2 separate regions of the Homo sapiens genome follow, and region 2 is linked to region 1. Evidence: fine-mapped expression QTL. Tissue or cell type: naive CD8 T cells. Region 1 holds a variant in brackets; the other region holds the start of a gene. All regions are shown on one strand. Distances are between the middles of the regions. Region 1 overlaps PRKAG2 (protein kinase AMP-activated non-catalytic subunit gamma 2). Region 2 holds the start of DRC11L (dynein regulatory complex subunit 11 like).

What was found. PIP is the estimated chance that this variant, and not a neighbour inherited with it, causes the effect. A credible set is the group of variants that fine-mapping cannot tell apart.
Region 2: it holds the start of DRC11L, and the variant in region 1 is the best candidate, but not a certain one, in a credible set for the expression of DRC11L in naive CD8 T cells (Schmiedel 2018, PIP 0.75).

Annotation. Positions count from the first base shown.
Region 1 is chr7:151,748,754-151,753,142 of GRCh38, reverse strand. All of the region lies in intron 3 of PRKAG2 (protein kinase AMP-activated non-catalytic subunit gamma 2), which reads left to right. Among named protein-coding and RNA genes, the nearest start is that of PRKAG2-AS2, 55 kb to the left of the region's middle. RefSeq lists enhancers at 1-196, 1-600. The variant G/AAAG (reference allele first, on the strand shown) is at 2,045.
Region 2 is chr7:151,203,211-151,207,599 of GRCh38, reverse strand. DRC11L (dynein regulatory complex subunit 11 like) reads left to right here and starts at 2,104. Exons shown (of 19, transcript NM_001304419.2): 1 at 2,104-2,156; 2 at 2,764-3,091; 3 at 4,086-4,205. The coding sequence starts at 2,146.

The DNA of each region.
Region 1 (4,389 bases):
TGTCTCATCTGTCACGACCTGAGCACTTTTCAGGAGGACAACGGCCAGTTCTTGTGTCACCTGCCCTTCGACATTTCCTCACCATCAGAGCCAGCCTCCGCCCTCAGGTGGGCACCCACCCATCCGTGGGCTGCCCTGGGCTTCTGCATCCCAGCAGGGTCACCCGATGCGGCCGCGACACCTTTCCGGTGAAGTGGACGCCGGTCACTTGGTGAAGGGGGCGTCTGCCACCATAAAGTTCTCTACTTTAATAAAGGGCTTACTTTCCCCCTTGTCACCAGTCAGGGCTTCAGGGGGACCTACTTTGGGATTGTGTAAATGTCTTCTTTCTCATCAAACTTTCACTTGCTAGTTTTAGGATTGATATGTATTTCTTGCCTGAATTGTTACTATAGTAATTACCAAAAGGCGATTTTCTAAATTTATCATGAATTCTACATTGACTGGTTGGAATGCTACTTTAAAGAACAGGTTTTTCTTCTCTCCCTGTGTGTGTATGTATCTATGGACTCATGGATTTGTATCCTATTCAGTGCCATGTTATTTCTCATTATCAAATATTTTAAAAAATTTTTATTTTAGGTTTGGGGGTCCATGTGAATGTTTGTTACATAGATAAAGATGTGTCATGGGGGTCTGTTGTACATATTATTTCATCACCCACGTATTTCATCATGTATTAGGCTCAGTACCCAATAGTTATCTTTTCCGTTCCTCTCCCTCCTCCCACCCTCTGCCTCTTAAGTAGCCCCCAGTGTTTGTCGTTTCTTTCTTTGTGTTCGTAAGTTCTTATTATTTAGCCCCCACTCATAAGTGAGAACATGCAGCACTTGGTTTTCTGTTCCTGTGTTAGTTTGCTAAGGATGATCGCCTCCAGCTCCATCCATGTTCCCTCAAAAGACGTGATCTCTTTCTTTTTTATGGCTGTGTAATATTCCGCAGCACATATGTACTACATTTTCTTTATCTGGTCTGTCATTGATGGGCATTTAGGTTGATTCCATGTCTTCATTATCAAGTTTTTGATGCTCAAATTGTCCTAGACGTGGCCAGCAGGAGCCTCTCCAGGCGGATCACTGTGTCCTTTGACTTTCCCCATCATATCCCCACCCTGTCCCCATCATGCTGTGGGCACTTCCTGGCTTTCTGGCTGATCTTGTACATTCCTCACCCCAGCCCTGGAATTAGCCATTGCTCTAAAGAGCCCTTGTCACTTTTAGTGGCAAATAGTGTTTACGTGTGCATGTCACTCCTGGGGTGTCATTGCTTCTAGGCCTTCTCAGCAGATGTATTAGAGACAACCTAAACACCCACATAGAAGAGAGTAGTTGGCCAGGTGAGGTGGCTTACACATGTAATCCCAGCACTTTGGGAGTCTGAGGCAGGAGGATTGCTTGAGCTCAGGAGTTCAAGACCGTAGCGAGACCCTGTCTCTACCAAACAAACAAACAAACAAACAAACAAACAAAAATAGCTGGGCATGGAGACATGTGCCTGTCGTCCCAGGTACTTGGGAGTCTGAGGCAGGATGATCACTTGAGCCCAGGAGTTCACGGCTGCAGTGCGCTGTGATTGCACTGCACTCCAGTCTGGGCGACAAAGCGAGAACCTGTCTCAAAAAAATAAATAAATAAATAAATAATAAATAGAGTAGTTCAATGAAATAAAGAAGTTACAGCTACATAGCAGAGTACCATGTAGCTGTAAAAAAAATATGGCATCTTTGGGCCGGGCGTGGTGGCTTACTAAACCTGTAATCCCAGCACTTTGGGAGGCTGAGGCAGGCAGATCACGAGGTCAGGAGATCGAGACCATCCTGGCTAACACGGTGAAACCCCGTCTCTACTAAAAATAAGTAAATAAATAAATAAATAAAAATTAGCCTGGCATGGTGGCGGGCACCTGTAGTCCCAGCTACTTGGGAGGCTGAGGCAGGAGAATAGCATGAACCTGGGAGGCAGAGCTTGCAGTGAGCTGAGATCACACCACTACACTCCAGCCTGGGCGACAGAGTGAGACTCCGTCTCAAAAAAAAAAAAAAAAA[G/AAAG]GAATCTTTGAATCAGTATGGCAAAAGACATGCCTAGGCAATCCTCAAAAGACATGAAAATAGCCATTAGACAATAGCATGAGCATACTTAGTCATCATTAGAAATCCAGATTGTAGAATTAATCCATATTTTCCTTTAGTATTTGTAGGTTTAACTTTTTTTGTGGTAAAATGCATATAATATGTAATTTAGCACCTTAACAAATTTTTTTTTTTTTTGGAGACAGGGTCTTGCTCTGTCCCAGGCTGGAGTGTAGTGGTGCCATCTTGGCTCACTGCAACCTCTGCCTCCTGGGCCCAAGTGATCCTCCCACCTTAGCCTCCTTAGTAGCTGGGACGACAGGAACATACCACTGTGCCTGGCCACCTTAACAGTGTTAAAGTATATAACTCAGTAGTCACAGTGTTGTGCGACCATCACCCCAATCTAGTTCCAGAACTGTTTCATCACCCCAAATGGAAACCTCACATCCCTTAGCCCTCAATCTCCATTACCCCTTCCCACAGCTCTTAGCAGATGCTAAGCTGCCGTCTGCCTTTCTGGACTTGCCTATTCTGCATATCTCACAGAAACAGAACCCCATGACCTGCGGGCTTCTGCATGTGGCTTCTATCACTTAGCAGATTGTTTTGAAAGTCGATCTACTTTGTGGCATATATTGGAATTTCATTCCTTTTTATGCCTGAATAATATTCCATTGTAGAATAGACTCCATTCTGCTTACTCAGTCATCCACTGGTGGCCATTTGGGTTGTTTCCACCTTTTGTGAATAGAGCTGCCATCAACGTTCATGTACAAGTTGTTGGAACACCCGTTTGCAGTTCTCTTGGGTATATACCTAGGACTGCAGGTTCTGGGTCATATGGTCATTTTGTGTTTAACTTGTTGAGGAATGTTTTCCACAGTGCAGTGTTTTACATTCCCATCAGCAATGTATGAAGGTTCCAGTTTCTCCATATCCTTGCCAACGGTTCAGTTCTTTTTTTTTTTTTTTTTTTTTGAGATGGAGTCTTGCTGTGTCACCCAAGCTGGAATGCAGTGGCACCATCTCGGCTCACTACAACCTCTGCTTCCCAGGTTCAAGCAATTCTCCTGCCTCAGCCTCCCGAGTAGCTGGGGCTATGAGCATGTGCCACCATGCCCAGCTAATTTTTATATGTTTAGTGGAGATGGGATTTCACCATGTTGGCCAGGCTGGTCTCAAACTCCTGACCTCACGTGATCTGCCCACCTCGGCCTCCCAAAGTGCTGAGATGACAGGCATGAGCCACCATGCCCGACCCAGTTCTTTTCCTTTTTTTTTTTTTTTTCAGTGTGGTTGTCCTAGAGGATGTGAAGTGGTCTACCATTGCTGTTTTGATTTGCAGTTCCCTAGTAAAGTTTAGCATCTTTTCTTGTACCTTTTGGCCACCTGTGTGTCTTCTTTGGGGAAATATTTAATCAAGGCAGCTGCTCATTTTTTTGATTGGATTGTCTTTTTGTTGTAGAGTTGTAGTTCTTTATGTATTCTGGATACTAGACACTTATCAGATATATGACTTGCAAATATTTTCTCCTTTCCTGTGAGCTGCCTTTTCACTCTCTTATTATTGTCCTCTGATGCACAAAAATGTTTCATAACAGCAGAGTTTTGATGACCAACGTCACCTTCATATGCTGCTTCTCTGTACCTGGCCCATGTAGACACTGAACGCTTACTGAAATGGAGGAAGCAGAGAGAGTGAGGGAGGTGGATACCGGGGACTACAGTTCACTGATTCAAAGAAATGGGGCATCAGGATAGGCTGATGGACGGGGGACTGTCTCATTGCCCCTCCAGGTGTCTGCTTGCTACAATGTGAAAGGCTGACTCAGGGTCTAACTATCCCTTTAAAGCTTCTAGTGAGGAGAGAGAAAAGATGGCAAATTCTCCGTAGCCTCCTTTTCTGAGTTTGATCTTTGGATGGATGGTTAATCCAGTTCTCTTGCTTAACCGCATCTCTTCTGCTTTGCAGTGAGCACAGTTTCTTTTGAGCATCTCCTCTCTGGAGACATCTGGCCCGTGGGCCTCTATGAGGAAAACCGTCAGCCTCTTCCTCACCCTCGGAGGCTCCAAAACACCCAGGCCAGCCCCATGTTGCCTAAAGCCCAGAAAACTGTGTTTTAAAATTTTGGCGAATGATTAGCAAATACTCTCACTGTCGTCACTGGGGGCAGGTTGGGTGAAAGTGCCCAGCTCATCTCTCTGGCTGCGGGCGCGGCGGGGCGAAGGCCAGGTGGCACGGCACGGATGTTCTTTCCTCCTTGCCGCTGCTGATGACGGAGTTTTGCAACCTTTTTTATTTTTATTTTAGCTTTTGCCAA
Region 2 (4,389 bases), 550 kb after region 1:
CAGCTGATTCCCTCTTGGGGCCTGAAATTCCTCCTGTATGGTCCTCTTTCAGGCTGTGTCTTCGCGATGTCATTTCCCACCAACTGTCATTGCATCCTGTACGACAGGCACTGTTGTGTGAAGGGGCCACACAGATCTATTCAAGATATAAAAACTGAAGGCCCAGATCGGCTTCTAAATAACCTGCTGAGATCAGTATGATTTTTCAGTTTCCCCTTTATTTCGGAACAAATCAGTGGGGATGTTTTTGAAACTCCTAACATCACCAATTTTATTTGGAAAAATTTGAAACCCACAGAAAAACTGCAAGAAGCACCACGGCCACGCCTATGTCCTTACCTAGATTTACTGCTCACCACTTAACCACTTGCTTTTCCTGTCTCATGCAGCCTCTGCTTATCTTGTGGGCACATGACCCATAAATCCTCTTCCAAGCTTGGACAAGATGAAGGGGTGGGATTTAGACAAACCTCCAATCCTTTGTGCCGTTTGTAATTGGACAGACCTGGCTTGTGGTCTCCTTCATCTCCACATATTGAAAAGGCATCGCCTTGTAGTAATAGCTGACGTTCAGCGGCAGCTACCTAGGTCACGTGTATTTTCTCATACCTCGAGCCTCACCTTGAGGTTCTGTGAGCTGAGGACTAATGATCCACGTTTACATTCACAGTTAGCAAGAGGCAGGCCCAGGAGATCTGGCCCCAAAGTCTCACTCCTGCCCACTCTGCCCTGTGTTCACACCTTGCCCTACCAGGCATGACCCGGGCCAGCAGGAGCCAAAGCACCTGGGAGCTTGTTAGAAAGGCAGGCTCTTGGGTCCCCCCTCAGATCTGGAGCAGAATCTGTTTATCTATCTATCTATCTATCTATCTATCTATCTTTGAGACAGAGTTTCGCTTTGTTGTCCAGGCTGGAGTGCAGTGGTGCCATCTCTGCTCACTGCAACCTCTCCCCATCCTAGGTTCAAGCGGTTGTCCTGCCTCAGCCTCCCGAGTAGCTGGGATTACAGGCATGTGCCACCAGGCCTGGCTAATTTTTATATTTTTAGTAGAGATGGGGTTTCACCATGTTGGCCAGGCTGGTCTTGAACTCCCAACCTCAGGAGATCCGCCTGCCCTGGCCTCCCAAAGTGCTGCGATTACAGGCATGAGCCACTGCGCCCAGCCTGGAATCTGCATTTTAATGAGACCCTCAGGTAGCTCATAGGCACCTTCGAGTTCCTCCTCTTTGCTCCTCCTTGCCGCTATCTCCCTTCTGTCCGTTTCCCTGGCCCTGTTCCTCTTAGATTTACTTATTCATAAGCCTCGACGTGACACTGAGCCAAAAAGCTCACCCCAGCTGACCAGCCTCAGGCTGCTAGTGGTATAATATTTTGTCTTTTTGGAAAAATTATCTCCTGAACTTGTAGCAGTGACGGGAGGTGGTACCCACAGGTGACCAAGTAAGCCCCAAGCATGCAGAACAGCATCCACTATACTTTCTAGCATGATGCTTCACACGGGTCTGGCTCATGGGAATGGTGTGAACTCTTGGCAGGCCCCAGGGAGGAAAGCATGGTTATGCTCACTTTCACCCAAGGGGGCAACTGGGACTTCAGGGCCTTCTGACTCCAAATCAGTGCCTTTCCCCTCCACCACATGGGCTTCCCCGTGCTGTCATCCAGAGAGTGAAGGAGGGCTGTGGGGCTCAGGAGGCGGGGGCTGAGAGAAGGAACAGAGGCCGCTGAGAGTGAGAAGCTGCGGTGATGCCTTGTTAGGGGGTAATGTCTTTAGGACAGATGTATCCAGAGCGCCAAAGCTTTCAGGGGACTTCAAATAGAAACTTATTTTACTTGTTCCTTACAAGAAAAATGGCCAAAGTTGGACAACATGTTCTGCCCTAAGCTTCCAAAGCTTGCTCTGCGGGAGCCTGCAGCCACCCACCCACAGTCCCTTCAGCGCGCTGCTCCCAGGACGTCCTCCGAGATAAATGTCCCCGATTCTGCACCCACCAGCCCCCTCGCCTCAGCCCTAGAACACTGGTACAATGGGTCAGAACTCTTAAAAACAGGCTGTTCTGCCCTGTGGCCCTGGAAGTCAGGGAGCCACAGAGGTTCTGTGAATTCCACCACCAGCAAACAAGGGGCAGCGTGGAGGAGTGGACACAATGTCTGAGGGGTGAGTGAGGGGCTGGAGTGGGGCTCCCAGGGCAGAGACAGCAAAGGGCAGAGCATCTCCTTAGTCCTGAGAGGCAGGGGCAGAGTGGCGGTTTGGGCACTGGGCCACCCCAGCTGCTGCTGCTGCCCTGGCAGCTTTCACTGTGGAAACTTCCCTCCGATGGTTAATTCCAGAACCAGGGCTCTGCTTGGGGAAGGGTCCCTCCTCCACATTCATCCCTCACCCCCACTTCCCATCCACCAGCCCAGATCACTGCAGCATCCGTGGGCTGCCCCACACCTGGAGGGCCCCACTGCCCCTGACTCCCAAAGACCCCTTCCTTACCAGAGCCCCAAGCCTGGGCTGGCTTTCCCCCAAACCCCCAAAGGTCATGCCCATTCTCTCTGCTAATCCTACAGCGGAGCCCAATCCCACACTCTCCCTAAGACCAGGTCGGTGTCCACTCATTGCCCTGCGGGCTCCTTACCTCATTGAAGTCCATTTAGGAGCCATGAGTGACATCACACCTTCTGGTACCCCGAGCCCACACTCCTCAAAAGGCCAGGCTGCTCCGTCTCCCCACTCCTCCGTGGCTCAGAGCACGCGGCGCCCGCCACCCTCTCCCCAGAGCTTACCAGCGCCTCTGGGAGTCCTCCCACGCGACCCTGCAGGAGCTGCTGGACCAAGAGCAGCTTCTGCTCGAACCTGCGCCCGACCGGGAGCGGCAGTCCTTCCAGTACAGGCTCGCATCGCTCTACCTGCACTACCTGGGGCTGCTGCGCCGCTTCGACACCGTCTATGACCAGATGGTGCAGCCGCAGAAGCGGCGGCTGCTGCGACGCCTGCTGGACGGCGTGGCGGGCCGCGTGCTGGAGCTCAAGGACGAGCTGGTGCGCGCCGACCTGTGTGAGAACCACTGCCTGGACCGCGTGCTGCAGGATTTCAAGCTCACCCCAGTACGTGTGCGCAGCCGCGAAGCCACGCCCCCAGCCAGCTAGCGGGAGGGGAGAGGTGGGGTGGGACCGGCCTTGACCACCTGGGACACAGAGCCACGCCCTGGCCAGCTTGGGGTCGGGTGGGGTAGGGATGGGGCCGACCACCCCTGCCTACCCGCCACCCCACGGATATCCCTGGTGTTGGGACAACTGCTAGGAAAGGAAGGAGGGCAGAGAAGATCAGAGGATGGGGTTTGGCCTTGTAGGAAGGGCTTCAGGAACCTTGGCGGTGGGGGGTGTGCATGGAGGTACTTAGAGGTTGGATGGAGTCAGGGTGAGGTCCCCTGCATGACTGGGAAGACCCACGAACCGCAGGGAATTGGTGAGGAGAGTCCTTTAGAGCCTCCTCAAAGTGTGGTCCCTGGACCAGCAGCATTGACATCACAAATGAGAAACTCTGAATCCCTAACTCACTAAATCTGCACCTGCATTTTTATCAAGACCCTCCAGTGATCTGTGTGCACGGGCAAGTTCTAGAAGGCTGTTCTAGAGCACAGAGCTTCTGCGGCGCCTCCAGTCCGGCTCAGGGTTCAGTAACTGCTTCATATCCAAGACTATCTCAAAGTTTCCCCAACCAGCTGCAGCAGTGCACTTGGTCGGGGGTGGGGGCGCAGGGAAGATTCCCCAGGTCCTGTCATTCTGATGTAGTAGTCTGAGGAGGACCTAGGAATCTGCATTTAAGAGCTTCCCAGTTGATTGTGATGCACAACCAGGTCTGAGACCACTGCCACCTACCATGAGCCTCCAGAATTCAACTCCAGCCAGAGGATGGGGGCAGAGGAAGAGAGGAGTGGCTCTTGGGGGTATCTGCCCCATTACCCTTTAAGTTTAGTCAGGACTCTAAAATGGAGGAAAACAGTGCTGGGGGTGTGTAAGCCCCTAAAAATGGTAACGGATCGGCCAGATGGCTCAGACTTTTGATTCCTGACCCTCCTCCCCCAACATTGCTCCAAAGGCTGACCTGGAGGTTCCAATCCCCAAATACTTCCTGCTGGAGCAGTCCACCACTGTGCGGGAGCGAGGGCTGATACTGGCCGAGATCCTGTCCAGACTGGAGCCAGTGTCCTCCCAGAAGGTAAACGGGGGTGACACCCTCCCAGACTCTTCCATACCCCATCTCCTGAAAGACTCCAGAATGCAGAGAGGCCCCTCCCTGCTCTCTACCAGAGTGCCCTTTAGGTAATCCCTGGCCTCCTTCAAGGCTGTTCTTCTGCTGATGGTAACCCTCCAACGCCAAGACAAGACTTGGCCTCCCAGAT